3 linked regions of the Homo sapiens genome follow. The protein of the gene in region 3 interacts with the protein of the main gene of each other region in a pairwise test. Each region holds a gene or a part of one and is shown on either strand. Other genes may lie near its edges.

Region 1 (5,215 bases), on a different chromosome or scaffold from region 3:
AATCTCCTGTTTGTGACAGAGTGGAAGGACATTTAAGCACAGACCTACTTTCCCTCACACCCAGGAAGCCCAGTCCTATTACTTCTTAATAGAAACTGACAAGTTGGCGCTACCAATCTGACACATCTGGAAGGACTTTAGACTCAAAGTGGTCCTCTGAGGTTATGTTAACCCCTCATTAACTTGCTTTGACTTGTCTAATACTCCAGATTCCTAAAGGAGAAGTGAGACTAAATTCCTTCCCCTACTAGAAGGTGACTGCCCCCCGCCCTTAGGAAAGGGGCCACATTTGGTCCAGCTTTGCAGGCTCGGGCCCATCACACAGCAGGCAAAAGTAGGTGTTGATCCTTGTTTGACTTTCCAACCCTGTTGAGTAGCCAGGCATTCCTCTGAAAGGATATGGCTCCATAACTCTGCATCCTGCAGTGTCTGGGCATAAGGCTTTCTGTGCCATGGGTCTGTAAACAGAAAGGGCAGAGAGCTAAAAATCAAGAGTCCTGAGGGCTGGCTCCAATTCTGTCATGGCCAGACTGAGCAACCGAATACTGACTGCTCAATCTCATAGTTGAAAACCAGGCTGAGGCCCTGATCTCCCTCTTCCATGCTATACCCCTAAACAATGCTTATGATGAAAGCAAGATCCACAGAAAAGAAATGGAAGCCATCAGCTGGGCTACAACTCCCTTCAACAGCCAAGAACATACAATAAAATGGCTTTCACAGGGTTCCAAGAGCCCTGTGGTAGGGTTCGTCAATTGCCATGGCCAGGTCTGAACCTATGAGGGCCAGTTTAATGTCCAGGTCATAGCCATAGCACTCAGTAGGCTGAACCTGGGAAAGCTTTATTGTGCCTAAAGCCCTGTAAAGGCCACATAACAGTCACCATCCATCCCCAACAGCCAGGACCAGGGGTAGGTGCCTGAACCAAAGGCATATAATCCAAAGGGTGACCAACTCTTTTTGGCGTGAAATACTACCAGACCAAACTGATTCTCTCATTGCAATCTGGTCTCTGATCTGAGAAACACTTGAGAGAAGAAAGGAGTTAAAGAGGAGCTGACAGGTCATGATATGGAGGAGCCCAGAGAGGCCACACGAAAGTAAAGGTATTGGGCAGAGGCAGATTCTACAAAGAAGGGAAGCTGGACAGCAAGTGGCTGCAGAGAAGGGATAAATCTTGGCAGAGAAAAGCAGAGATGTCACTAGAGATAAAGACAGACAGCCACACAGGCCATGAGATAATCCACGGAGCCCATGAGAGGCGGTACCTCAGAGCTGTCTGGGGACTTTCCAGCTCTTGCCACAGATCCCCCTTCTCTTTTTTCTTTTTCTTTCTTTTAAGAGACAGAGTATCTCTCTGTCACCCAGGCTGGAGTGAAATCTCCAACTCCTGGGCTCAAGCGATCCTCTGGCCTCAGCCTCCCAAGCAGCTAGGCCTACAGGCACACACCACCACACACCTAATTTTTTTTAGAGATAGGGTGTTGCTATGTTGCCCAGACTGGATGCCAACTCCTGGCCTCTGGTGATCCTCCCACCTCAGCCTCCCAAAGGGCTGGGATTACAGGTGTGAGCCACTGCACCTGGCCTATCCCTTTTCTTGAGATAATTGAAAAATCCCGATTCCTTCAAATCAAAAGAGGTTTAATTCTCAGGAGCCACAGGCTGAATCTTTAATGAGGTCACTATGAAGGCTGGGGATCTAGTGTGGATGGTTTAAGACAAAGTCACACTTCTGATGGAAAAACAAACTTGAAAGGGAGCCAGCATTTTTTCTGTGTTAACCACAGCCCAAGTGCTTGACATCTCTTATCTCATCATTCCTCATAACCCCATTCTACTTCCAGGTGCATAAGTCCCCATTTTACACAAGGGAAGCAGGTTCAGTTATGCAAGTAAAACCACTTATTGTAAATGGTGAAGGTGCCTGCTCAGTCTGACTCCAAAGCCTCATTCAAAAAGAGGCAGGAAACCATATGACTTCAGCAGGAGAGAGCAGAGATTTCTTTATCTCTGGTCAGTGGCTTACCCATGGGCCAATGTCTGGTGGCTGCCCCCAAATTTCCCAACACTTTATGATAATGTCCATTCTCAGGCCCCAGCCCCAGAGAGTCTGATTCAGAATGTTGGGGTAAAGCCTCAGAATCTGTATTTTGTAGGTGAGTAAAATGCACTTCAAGGCTTCAGAATCCCTGGGCTAAGAGGGAGGTTAGCAATGGCTTCTCATGGATGAGGAAAACACACATCTAGCCCAGTAAGCCAGAAAAGAGGATAAATCCTAGATTCTAAAAATTCTGAAGTCTGCTCCAAGTTCTGCATGGTATGGGCAGAGTAAATCGTTTATGATACTAGTAAGACAAAAGCTATACAAAGAAATGCAATATAGGGTTCTAAAGGAACTTATACTCAATGTGGGAAAAATGCAACCAAAACAATACAGCAGTATATGCCATATACTATTTAAGCTCTAGAAAAACTGGGGAGTGGGAGGTGTCAATTAGAACTTTCTCTTTCCCTTCCAGTTTCCCCACAAGCTTTTAGAGAAAGGGGGAAAGAAAAGGAGGTAGAGGAAGCAAAGATTCTCTCCTGCCTTGATCTCTGGATCCCTACTGAGGAAATGGAAGAAATGACTTTCACTGCAGCAGGAAGGTGGCCTCAGAGTCAAGTATGGGCTTTGCAATCAGACAGGTCTGGATTTAAATCCCAGTGCCACCACTCAATTACTGTGTCACCTTGACAAGCGACTCAACCTGCCCGAGCTCAGTTCCTCATCTATAGAGATAACATTTACCTTCAGAACTGTTGTAAATATTCAATGAAATAAAAATTATAATATGTACCTAATAAGAATGGGATATAGCCTTCAAAGACTGAAAGAGAACCTAACAGAAACCAATCAAATTATTTATCAAAATACCGATTTAATCCACCTTTTTGATTCTCTGTTCTCCCCTGGGAGAGGGGATCTGTTCACCAGGTTGACTCAAATTGTATCACCTAGACTCCCTTTGCTGGCTTCTGGTTGGGTTTGTCCAGTGGAAGATACCAGATCAGAGGGTGCCCCTCACCCCCAATCTAGTGGCCACATTTCTGATAGTGCCTGCATCTATCGAAGACTATGACTTATGTTGGGCAGCCCTTCCTCCACAGTTCCAGCTATCACTGAAATGTGGTAATACTGTTTCCTCCCCTGGCCCCTTTGGAATAGGGGCAGTAGCCACTCCCAGTAGTTGTCTTGGGGCTCCTCAACATCTCTTATTGGTTCCCTGAAACCCCCCCCATACTGCTCTAGAGTCCCATCATAAAAGTCTCCTGAACTACCTGAAGAGGGTTCCATTTTCTGCCAATAACTAAAATGATCCACCCTCCCTTCTCACAAACTGACTTCTCCCAAGTGTGACACATCCTCTAGTGGCCATGTTTGAGCCTAATTATTCTGTCCATCCTTTCCCTCAACCCCCTAAAAGAACTAGAGTTTCTTTCTCTTGGAAACATGAGTTCAGAACTGAACGAGAAGGAATGGTCTCTTTTACAGAGGAACTGGGAAGGAACCACATTTTTTCTACCACTGGCCCAAGAAATAGAAAACCAATCTGTAGGGAGACAAAAACAAAGCAAAGAGGGGGAAAAAAAAAACCAGCAGAGATTAGGATTCCTGGAGAAACACTTGCAGCCTTGTAATCCATACTGTTTTGCTTGAGCCGATGTGTTGGTTACCATTACTAGCAACTGAATCCTCAACACATCGTGAGGTTAATTTCAACTGCTTCTAACTATCACCAAAACAAGATGAAATATTCCCTGAAATAGTAAAAGAACCAAAGGCTGAAGGGAAAGTGACATCAGAAGCTGAAATGGACGTTACTGGACCAAAGGTGAAAAGTAAAACACAAAATGACTAGGACTATACAAGCAACAGGAGTTCAGGCAGGCACTGCTTAAGGTGCACTGCCGGCACTCTATAACCAACGCAACAAAAGTTTAGGAGATTTCAGAACTGAATCAGTTGAGATTCCATGGTAGGCTCATTCACCTGCATCCTGACCTTTATTTGGATGGTGTAAATTGTGTTTTGCTCCTCTATACATATGGCATATTTTGGGCCAACATTAATAAGCCCTTATGAAGACGTTGATTTGAAGCCCATTACTCTGCATGGCTCTGTGATACACAGAGCTGAGCATTTACCAACAACTGTGCCCAAATATGTCCATGGTACTGGTGAGAGGGAGGTTTAATTTAAAAAATAAAAACACCATCCAACTCATTCCCCCTTTAAAGCTTACATCACCCATTCAATGCTACTAAGAACCTACCAAGTGCTAGACACTGGCTATGCCTTAAGGGTCCCCCATACAGACAAGTCAACAGGCTATTGCCTTCCAAGATCCATGATGAGCGAATGACTGAACCTCTAAGACCTCTAGGATCGTGCTTCTGGCCACCTCTGCAAGCTGATCTTCCACCATTTCCCCCAGCCCACCCCTTGGGCTCCACATGTCCTCCACCTGAGGATTTACAGACTCACCACCCCTTCCTTCTGGAACACTGGTGCCTACTTAATTCTCAGTCATGCTGAGAACTCAGTTCAAATGCTATTTCCTTAGGGAAGCCTCCTCTGACCTCCCAGTCTAGATCGTGTCCGTTTTTTCCTTCATAGCATTCAGTACAATTTTATATATAAACACTCAAGTACATTTATAGTTTCTGCATCTTCCTTCTAGCATGAGAGCTATATAAGGACAGGTTCCTTCCTAGCCCCTGAGTCTAGCTCAGTTCTGTGTTGAATGAATGAATACTGAGTCCTGAAGATACAGAGGAGGAATCCTTGACATGGATTTAGGGGAGCAATTCCACCTCCTTAGGGAAGCCTTCAGAGCATTACAAGTCCCTGGAATTCTTTTTATTTATTAAAAAAAAATTATTTCTTTAGAGATGGGCTCTCACTGTGTTGCCCAAGCTGGTCTCAAACTCCTAGGCTCAAGCAATCCTCCCATCTCAGCCTTTCAAAGTGCTGGGATTACAGGCGTGAGCCACAATGCCCGGCCCCTGGTATACTTTAACTTCAACCTCCACTAACTATACCACTTCCTTGGCATAGATCTTACATTACCTTTGTTTTTATTTTATTCACTTTTACTCTCTGTTTGTCTCCCTCCTATCTTTCATTTATTTCACAACCATGTTTTGGCATCCCTGCTGTTTCCCACATAAC
Region 2 (5,215 bases), on a different chromosome or scaffold from region 3:
GAAAAAAGATAAACCTTCTGGCTGGGCGCAGTGGCTCACACCTATAATCCCAGCACTTTGGGAGGCCAAGGAGGGTGGATCACCTGAGGTCCGGAGTCCAAGACTAAGCCTGGCCAACATGGTGAAACCCCATCTCTACTAAAAATACAAAAAAATTAGCCGGGCGTGGTGGCAGGCACCTGTAATCCCAGCTACTCAGGAGGCTGAGGCAGGAGAATCACTTGAACCTAGGAGGTGGAGGTTGCAGTGAGCTAGGATCACACTACTGCACTCCAACCTGGGCAACAAGAGCAAAACTCCAGCTCACAAAAAAAAAAAAAAAAAGAAGATAAACTTTCTTCCACATTCTGGAGGGAAGGACAGGCCTCATCCAGGAAGGTTTCCTGATCGAGGCCCCTCTCACTCTCCTCCCGTGTCAGAGAAAATGTGCCTTCTGCCGTCTCTCAGAAGGGCTCTGAGCAGAGCAGAGAGGGTGCTTGTGATAGAAACAGACTCTCCTCCCTGAAGTCCAAGATCTAGAGTGTGTGGGGGCGGCTATGCCCAGCACCATAACCATGTCCTACCCAACAGAGGTGTCACTCGACTTGTAAGAGAAAGACTAAAATCCTCAACCCAGTCTACAAGACCAGGCCCACCTCCCCAGCATCATCGCCCGCCCATCCCTGAGCCACAACCACACCGGCTCTCTCCATTCCTCGTTCCTGCCGCCTTCCTCTCAACTCAGGGCCTTTGCACTTGCTGTCCCCTCTGCCAGGCACTTTCCCTCCACCCCCACACCCCTTCTCCTTGCTCCACTCAACCCCTTCAGGCTCAGCATAAATACCTTTCCCCCAGGAGGCCACTGAGGCCTCCAGGCTGGCTCAGCCTTTCCTTTAGGCTCTCAGAGAACCTCAGACACCTCCTCCTTAGCACCAAGCGCACCTGTAACCCATGACCCTTTAGGTAATTCTTCTATTGGGATTCTTCCACAAGTCTGTAGGCTCCCTGAGGGGAGGTCCAAGACCATCTTGTTCACTGATGTGACCCAGTGCATGGCTCCAGGCCTTGCACAAAGTAAACACTCATCATATTTGTTATGTGAATGCGTCTTGCAGCGTGGCCTTAGGCAAGTTGCTCTGCCTCTCTGGACCTTGGTTTTACCATCTGAAAACAAAGTGGCTAGAAGGTCTGTAAGAGCTCTCATAGAAACTGCTCAGACACAGACAGACTGTCATAGATGGGTGGCCCCAGAGGCCCTGCTCTTCCCTCACCACACGGTTCTCTCCAGCACCTCGCCTCTCCATGGGAGCTGTGCAGGGAGGCTACACTGCTTGGACTGACTTTTTGGAGAAGATTCAGAAGCATCCTCTAATTAGCATTTAGAGGAAACTCAGCGCAGCCAGTTCTCACCACTAGTACCAGCGAGGAAAGTGCCGAGGAAAGTTGTTGTCTGTAGGGTCTCTCTGGTTGGCCCACCAGGTGGGAGCTCTTGGCAGTCCAGAGCCATGTCTAGCCTGCAAGGTTACCTGTCAAGGCCCTGGCACACACTGGGTGTCAGGAAATAGTCTTATGAACTGAATCTGATAGTCCAGAGATCTTAGTCAGGCCTCAAGAGCCTCTCACTGGGCCGAGCCTCGTGATCTCATCTCTATAGCCACAGGTAGTGACTACTCTGCCCAGGGTATAGCAGACAGCCGGTCAGCCAGGGCTGGTCCTCCTGCTTTCTCCCTCTCTTGCAAATAACCCAGGTGGGAGTTTGTGCAATGAGACATTTCTTTATCTCCAGAATTTTGGATTCAGTCACTAAGAGAATGACAAGGCGACCTGGTGAGAGGGCAGACAGTGGGATACCCACCCGCTCCGTCATTCCATTGTTCACGGCCGGTGAGCCCCCAGGCCGCGTGCTGGTTACATATTTCCACCATCACCCTGACTGACAAGATACTGACCCAAGACCACCTTACGTGGCCCGAAAGATCATTACACCCTTCTGTCCAAAGAGCCCTTGGAAAGGACACCAGAGCAGCCAGAGAAGTCACCCACCCCCTGGCTGGCCAGCGACAGAGGCACCAGGGCAAGAAGCCACTGGAGGCCCAGACAAGCCCTCCCGACCTTATAGGATGTAGCGACTGCCCAAGTTTGGCCAAGAACACTGAAGAGACCTCTCTGAGCAGAACCTGGTGTGCCCTCACCCACACCCCGCCAGATGCCTCTGCCTTCAGGAACCTGGCTGGGCCGGTGTGGCGGTGGCAGGTGTGGTGGGCGTGCATCACGAGGCGTACCTGCTCGGGCTTGATGGGCTCTGTGGTGGTGAAGATGTCTGAGTAGTGCTGCCTCTCAAACACGCGGTCCAGCACCTCCAGCTGCTGCTGTGTGAACAAGTCTCCCCGCATCTGCTTCCGGAGGAAGTCTCTGCCCGGAAGCGAGTGGCCGTTCGGCACCGGAGACTCCTGAATACCTTTGATGAGCAGGAGAGAGGAAGGGTGAGTGGAGGTTATACACGTTGCTAAAGAAAGACAGGTCAGACCCTGAGACTATGAAGAGGACCTGACCCCAACTCCCTCCCTGACCAGAGAATACACCAGCAGGGGCTCAGGTAAGGCACTGCCTTTCCCAAGGTCACCTGCTGGTAAGTTCAGAGTCAGCCTCCCGCAGCCATGTGCCAGGGACTGTGCAAAGCCCTTTTGACAGGCATCATGTCATCTAATCCTCATGATGACCCTCAAGGTAGGTTATTTTCCCCACTTTGCAGATGAGAAGACTGAGACCTAGAGAGATTTATTGGTTTGCCTGAGGATTCGAGCTTGGGCTGACCCACAGGCTTAGTCATCCGGTGCTCCTGCCCCTCCTGTCCTAAAGACCTTCCCGGGAGGTACAGTTTTTCCCAGAGTTGAGGTCCTTACCCTGGACATTTGCTACCACATCATGTGACCGGTCAGTGAAACACTGTGCTAGGAAGACTGTAGGAAAACGGGACTCTCATACAATTCTGGTGGAAGTGGTAACAACACCTGTGCTAGACAAGTCGACAAATCTATCAAAGCCACAAATGCACATTCCCTTTGATATAGCGATTGCACTTCTGGGAATTTATTTTACAGCTCAACTTACACATGTGAGAAGTGATGTATGTACAAGGTTCTTGTAGCAAAAGACTGGAAACAACCCAAGAGTTTATTTGTGGGGGGTTGGTTAACTCAGCCAGGCATACTTGCATAATGGAAAACTGTGCAGCAGCTGAAAAGGAATGAGGCTTCCTTCTGTGAATTGATATGAAAAGATCTTCAAGATACATTGTTATGTTAAAAAATAAAAAACAAGGTACAGCACAGCATGTATAATGTACAACCTTTTGTGTAAAAAAGGAAGAAAATAAGACGATGTGCAATATAAATCTCTCCAAAGGATATATGAGAAACATTTACAGTGGTTGCTCATTCAGGGAGGTAGGAAGTGAGTGAGTGGAGGTGAGGGGGAGAGACTTTTCATGGCATGTTTTTCTTTGGTTTGGTTTGGTTTCAGAAGTTTGAATGTACTGCTTATTACAAAATGTAAATTAACTAAGTATAAGATTAAATTCCCTCTGTGTTCTGTATTGTTAGCTATTCACACTGTAACAGTCTCTGGTGATGATGCTTACATGTCAAAAGAAATATTACGAATTATCAATAAAGAAACAAATGGGATGAAATATCTTCTGTTGAGTCTCAAGCTTGAACTGTTCAAAATAAAATCAAGCACAGAGGGCAAATGTTTCCCGTGAGGAAATGGCCTCGGGGGTACATCATTCCCCGGGGCTCTCTGGGACCATATTGCTCACGCAAGGCTGACCAGAGGCTTCTTGAAACCCAGGCCCAGAGGTGAGGCATCTGCCTTTGCAGTCAGGAAGCCCTGGGGAAAACCAGCGTGGGTCTGCTCTCATGCTGAAAGGTGCCCTTACTCAAGGCCTTGTCTGACCCCTGCCCCCACCAGTGCACTGCTGCCCTAGACTAGACTTCATCCGTCACGTCAAGCTCCCACCCATGTGAGGAATGAGGCCAGACTAAAGACCATGAAGCAGTGAGATGTGGTGTCACCAAGACTCAGTCAGAAGTCAATGCTTCCTCAACTGTACTTATCTGGGGACAACTGCAATGCAGGGCTGACATTTGAACAAAGATAGCAGCTTTGAGTTTTGGCCTTTCGGATCCCTCGTAGAAGTCAACAGGCTCAGAGGACCCAGCATCCTCTATAGGAAGGGCCTTCGGAGGCAGCTCATGAGCCCTCTGAGAAAATGGATTCCCCACCAATTTTGACCCAAGAGGATACTGTAGGCTGGGCCACAGCCTGAGTGACCAGATACCCCCACATGTGGGCCAAGGCAGAAGTTGGTCTCTCTGACCAACGTTCCCCAGCCTGAAGCCTAGGCCCCTCCTCTGGCAGCCCATGACCTTGGCCTTCCACAAGACAGGTGCCTGCTCCTGCCCACAGGACATCATCCTCAGAGACCCTTCTCCCATCATGGCCCATCCCCATGGGGACCATTCCCACAAGGTCACCTAGACTAGCAGGTATGGGAGCTCACGGCCCAGTCTATCTGCCCAGCAGTGTTCTTCCATTGGTCAGCACCCACCAAATGATCCTTTTCTCAAAGGTTCTATGCACACACACACATGCACACACACATGCACACGCACACGCACACCAGGAAAGATGGCTCAGTTTTTCCTACTCAGCTGTGGCTCTGCCCAGTCATCCTGGTCCCAGTCACTCTTGCTAAAGCATGACGTGGGCCTTGGTCCCCAGGACACCACCAAGTTCCTCCTTGTCAGAAGGGGCCCATCCACTTTCAAGAGCTTCTCCCTCCACCAGCTTCAGTTATACTTCCCAGCCCTGACCCTGCCAGCCGGGCCCAAAACTCAGTGAAACCTCCTTCCTGTCAGCCATCTCCTAACAACTCCCGCTGAGGCCTGGCTCTGTCCCCAGCAGGGCAGTGCCCAGCTCCTCCGGCCCACCCAGGCTGCTCCATCAGATCCCCTCAACTCTGCCCCTCTAGGGGGCGTCTCTTCAGCCAGCCAGGCCATCCTCCCAGAGGAGTCCTCAGGCTTGATCCCTCTCCCCCGGGACTCATGGGCCAGGCTCTTTCCACAGCTCAGAGCCCAAAGTTCAGAGAGGGTGGCTCCACTGAGGGCCCCTGGGGGCAAGGTCACTGTCTGGTCACCCAGTAGAGCCCAGCACAGAGTAAAGGCTCAGGGCA
Region 3 (5,215 bases):
AGAAGACTGCTTGGGCCCAGGAGTTTGAGGCTGCAGCGAGCTATGATTGCACAACTGAATTCATGCACAGGCATCAGAGAAAACCCTATCTCTAAGACAATAATATACATATATTTTAAGTTGTGTTTGGAGAGACGGGGGAAAATCCAAAGTTCTTTGAAAGAAACTTACTTCTACCTTAATACTCAGAATTAGGATTTTAGCTAATGTCACTGGAGGCACTCTCGACATGTTTAAATCAGCCAGGTTTTAAGCTTATGAGTCTATGCAATGCATTCTTCTTCTTCTTTTTTTTTTTTTTGGTGAGATGGAGTCTTGCTCTGTTGCCCGGGCTGGAGCGCAGTGGTGCAATCTCGGCTCACTGCAACCTCTGCCTCCCAGATGCAAGCGATTCTCCTGCCTCAGCCTCCCAAGTAGCTGGACTACAGGCATATGCCACCACACCCGGCTAATTTTGTATTTTCAGTAGAGACAGGGTTTTGCCATGTTGGCCAGGCTGGTCTTGAACTCTTGACCTCGTGAACCGCCCACCTTGGCCTCCCAAAGTGTCGGGATTACAGGCATGAGCCATCACACCTGGCCTATAACACCCTTTTTTTTTTTTTTTTTTTTTTTTGATACGGAGTCTTGCTCTGTCGCCAGGCTGGAGTGCAATGGCGCGATCTCAGGTCACTGCAACCTCCGCCTCCCGGGTTCAAGAGATTCTCCTGCCTCAGCCTCCCGAGTAGCTGGGACTATAGGCACGTGCCACCACACCTAGATAATTTTTGTATTTTTAGTAGAGATGGGGTTTCACCATGTTGGCCACGATGGTCTCGATCTCCTGACCTGGTGATCTGCTCACCTCGGCCTCCCAGAGTGCTGGGATTACAGGTGTGAGCCACCAGGCCCAGCTATGCATTCTTAATGGAAGCAAAACCACGCTAATGGGAGTAAAAACGGGGGCGAAGGAAGGGCAAAAAGTAATCATTTTATGTATAAAGCACAGATACATACATTACATACATACAGACATACAATAATCTGTAGTAGTAAATTTTCACAGGCAGAAACTAGGAGGAAAATGCCTAAAAAGGCTGTTTAGGGGAGTAATAATGAAGAGAGTAAGAAATATTGGAATATAATTAAAATCCTAGCCTCAGCCGGGCATGGTGGCTCACGCCTGTAATCCCAGAACTTTGGGAAGTGGAGACGGGCAGATCACCTGAGGTCAGGAGTTCTAGACCAGCCTGGCTAACATGGTGAATCCCCATCTCTACTAAAAATACAAAAATTAGCCTGGCATGGTGGCAAACACCTGTAATCCCAGCTATTCAGGAGGCTGAGGCAGGAGAATCTCTTGAACCCAGGAGGTGGAGTTTGCAGGGAGCCAAGATCACACCATTGCACTCCAGCCTGGGCAACAAAAACAAAACTCCGTCTCAAAAAACAAAACAAACAAAACCTAGCATCTTACTAAACATCCATCACCAAATGAGATTTATCAAAAGATCCATATGTAGGACAGCAAACTAGGAAAATACCAATGCACCCAATAGCATGGCATGACTGCATGAATTAAGGTATGCAATGTGGTTAAACCAACCAATCTGCTTTTAACAAAGGGAGTTTTTATCTTGGATGATGGGTATAAGCACCCAACTTCCTAAAAGCTTACAACAGATGAAGCTAAGGTTGACTAATATAAAAAGAATGTAGTTTAATCAGTAGCAAAAACACCTAAAATCTCAAGCAACTGAGGATCTTGGATCTACAGATTAAGAAGAGTGAGATTTATGTTTGGCCCATTATTTGCAGTTTATATATCTCAGTTTTTGTAATCTATTTTCATAGTTATAAACCAACAATATAAATCACATGTTGCCAATTCCTGACTCTAGGAATAAGGATTTAAAACCTCTTGAATAATTATAACCCCACCAATTAAACGTAAATTCCCACAGCATCTCTAGTTGTCCTGTTTTATTCTTTACAGACCATAAAAAATTACCATTATTAAAACTTAAAGTAGCTGGGTGTGGTGGCTCACACCTGTAATCCCAGCACTTTGGGAGGCCAAGGCGGGTGCATCACGAGGTCAAGAGATCAAGACCACCCTGGCCAACATGGTGAAACCCTCTGTCTCTAACTAAAAATACAAAAACAAACAAAAAACAAAAACAAACAAACAAAAACAAAGATAAAATTATCAGGCTGGGCGCAGTGGGCTCAGTGGCTCATATCTGTAACCCCAGCACTTTAAGAGGCTGAGGTGGGAGGATCATTGGAGCCCAGGAGTTTGAGACCAGCCTGCACAACATGGCAAAACCCTGTCTTTACAAAAAAAAAAATACAAAAACTTAGCTAGGCATGGTGGTATGCGCCTGTAGTCCCAGCTACTAGGAAGGCTGAGGTGGAGAATTGATTGGGCCTGGGAGGTCAAAACTACAGTGAGCCATGATCATGTTACTGCACTACAGCCTGGGTGACAGGGCAAAACACTGTCTTAAAAAAAAAAAAAAAAGTTGGGTTGAGTTTCACATAAAGTGACACTTTGCCATAGAATTACTTTATATTACAAACTAGATTTCTTAAATAGCAATGAAAATAGTATGTCACTTAACAAAAAGTAATTTTTTTTTTTTTTGAGAAAGGTCTGGCTGTGTCACCCAGGCTGGAGCGAGGTGGTGCGATCTCAGCTCATTACAACCTCTGCCTCCTGGGCTCAAGCTATCCTCCCACCTCAGTCTCCCAAGTAGCAGGGACTACAGGTGCACACCAGTATGCCTGGCTAATTTTTATATTGTCAGTAGAGACGAGGTTTCACTCTGTTGCCTAGGTTGGTCTCCAACTCATGAGATCAAGTGATCTGCCTGCCTTGGCTTCTCAATGTGTGGGGAATATAGGCATGAGCCACCCCACTGGCTATAAAAAGTAATTTTAAAAATAGTTAGGCCAGATGCGGTGGCTCACACCTATAATGCCAGCACTCTGGGAGGCCAAGGCGGGTAGATCACCTGAGGTCAGGAGTTCGAGACCAGCCTGGCCAACATGGTGAAACCCAGTTTCTACTAAAATACAAAAAATTAGCTGGGCGTGGTGGCATGCGTCTGTAATCTCAGCTAATTGGAAGGCTAAGGCAGGAGTATCGCTTGAACCCGGGAGACGGACGTTGCAGTGAGCCGAGATCCCGCCATTGCACTCCAGCCTGGACAACAAGAGCAAAACTCCGTCTTTAAAAAAAAAAAAAAAAAAAAAGGCCGGGTATGGTGGCTCATGCCTGTAATCCCAGGACTTTGGGAGGCCAAGCTGGGTGGATCACGAGGTCAAGAGATTGAGACCATCCTGGCCAACATGATGAAACCCCGTCTCTACTAAAAATACAACAATTAGCTAGCACATGCCTGTAGTCCCAGCTACTCAGAAGGCTGAGGCCAGAGAATTGCTTGAACTCGGGAAGCAGAGGTTGCAGTAAGCAGAGACTGCACCACTACACTACAGCCCGGTGACAGAGCACGACTCCGTCTCAAAAAAAAAAATTTATATTACCTGTTACATCTTGAAAATGAACTGATATGATAGATATGGTATTTGCATATGTTTAGAAAATGTCCTTCATCCAACTTTCACACTACATTTCAATATGCTTAAGGGACAACTTACTACATTTATACAGCCCTCAGATCTCATAATCTTACCCTTCACTGAGAGGGACTTAACAATCTCGATCCAGGCAAAAGAGAGAAAGAATGAAGAAAGAAAGAAGTGATAAAAGACAGAAAAGAGAAGTAAAGTGAAAGAAAGATAGTATGAAAGGTAGAAAAATGCCTGGATTTCTGAAAGTTAGTCCTATTCTCTCTAAGTAGGAATAGTGATCATCACTGGGCTGTCACAGGTTAATATAAAAATTGCAAAAGGCTCTCTAAAAAAGACTTTGTCCTTAGCTGTTAACATTAATAATAATAATAAATGCCTGGCAGTAGTCACTTTTTAGAAGTAGTCACTTTTTAGAAGCAAGAAGGAAACAAGGATTTGGGTTGCTGGTCCAGAAGGTCTTTATTTGCATTTTTAGAAAAAGTATTCACTAATTATTTCTGTAATTAAAAATTACCAACCTGTATTGGTCAAATATATGGAAAAGAACTGTACACAAGTGGTTTTAAGTAACATGCAAAAATGTACTAAACACACCATGTATTTTCAAAACCATAGGTATACTTCCTTATAAGTAAAGATAACTTGACTGTCATTCCTGGCTGTCACCAAAAAGATGCAACGGATAAAAGGTAACAATAAAGAAATAACCATGGAGCCAAGTAAAGTATTTCAGAGTCAAGCAACTGCAAATATCAGTACCTTTATTTTTTGGAGGGGGGAGCGGGGAGGGGTGAGAGGGCGTGGCTGCAGGGAATAACAGAGTCTCACCGTCACCCAGGCTGGAGTGCAGTGGTATGATCTCGGCTCACTGCAACCTGTGCTTCTCAGGCTCAAGCAATTCTCGTTCCTCAGCCTCCTGAGTAGTTGGGACTTCAGGCATGCACTACACCACCACGCCCAGCTAATTTTTGTATTTTTGGTAGAGATGATGTTTCGTCATATTGCCCAGGCTGCTCTTGAACTCCTGAGCTCAGATGATCCACCCACCTCAGCCTGTGTTTATGTTTAGTAGTAAAATTTTTCTAACACTTGAAAATGATCTTCAATTGCTTTAACCAATTGTGTCTGTCAAGAATAGTCCAAAAACTCTGACTATTAAAGAGTAGTACACAATGTTTCCAGTGAGAAGAATATTTTTTCATTCTGTTGGGGCTCATTTCTCCAGTAAAACAAGTTTCAGAAAAACCTGTCAAAAAAGGACTAAGTTCCTAGAAGTCATCTTGGAAAAACATACTCCAGATGGTCTCCTTTCCAAAAGAAATAATTAGAAGAATCGAATCTGGCAAAAGACTGTCACTGAAAATAAACCATTAGGAAAAACCCTCAAAAACCAAGAGTCTCACAAAACAGCAAACGAGAAGTAATAAATGTGAAACTATTAAATAAATCGAAATGACTATATGTCAGTCCTTTATTCTTTGGTTACTCATACTGTGTTAAAAGCCATAGTATCACGCCTGTAATCCTAGCAATTTGGGAGGCCAAGGTGGGAGGACTGCTTTGAGCCCAGGAGTTCAAGACCAGTCGTCCCAGGCAACATAAACAGACCCTGTCTCTACCCCCACAACAACAACAACAA

The links. The genes of interacting proteins can lie anywhere in the genome.
Region 1: the proteins of LARP4 (region 3) and EXOSC7 interact in a two-hybrid assay, tested with the Homo sapiens proteins (one large-scale study listed by BioGRID).
Region 2: the proteins of LARP4 (region 3) and PAX5 interact in a two-hybrid assay, tested with the Homo sapiens proteins (one large-scale study listed by BioGRID).

What each region holds. Positions count from the first base shown.
Region 1 is NC_000003.12:44,978,010-44,983,224, reverse strand, and holds part of EXOSC7 (exosome complex component RRP42), read right to left. Parts: intron 1-5,215. UniProt on the Homo sapiens protein: Non-catalytic component of the RNA exosome complex which has 3'->5' exoribonuclease activity and participates in a multitude of cellular RNA processing and degradation events.
Region 2 is NC_000009.12:36,964,288-36,969,502, forward strand, and holds part of PAX5 (paired box protein Pax-5), read right to left. Parts: intron 2,438-5,215; coding exon 2,262-2,437; intron 1-2,261. UniProt on the Homo sapiens protein: Transcription factor that plays an essential role in commitment of lymphoid progenitors to the B-lymphocyte lineage. Fulfills a dual role by repressing B-lineage inappropriate genes and simultaneously activating B-lineage-specific genes.
Region 3 is NC_000012.12:50,455,224-50,460,438, reverse strand, and holds part of LARP4 (la-related protein 4), read right to left. Parts: exon of another isoform or gene 4,011-5,215; intron 3,869-4,010; exon of another isoform or gene 3,653-3,868; intron 1-3,652. UniProt on the Homo sapiens protein: RNA binding protein that binds to the poly-A tract of mRNA molecules. Associates with the 40S ribosomal subunit and with polysomes. Plays a role in the regulation of mRNA translation.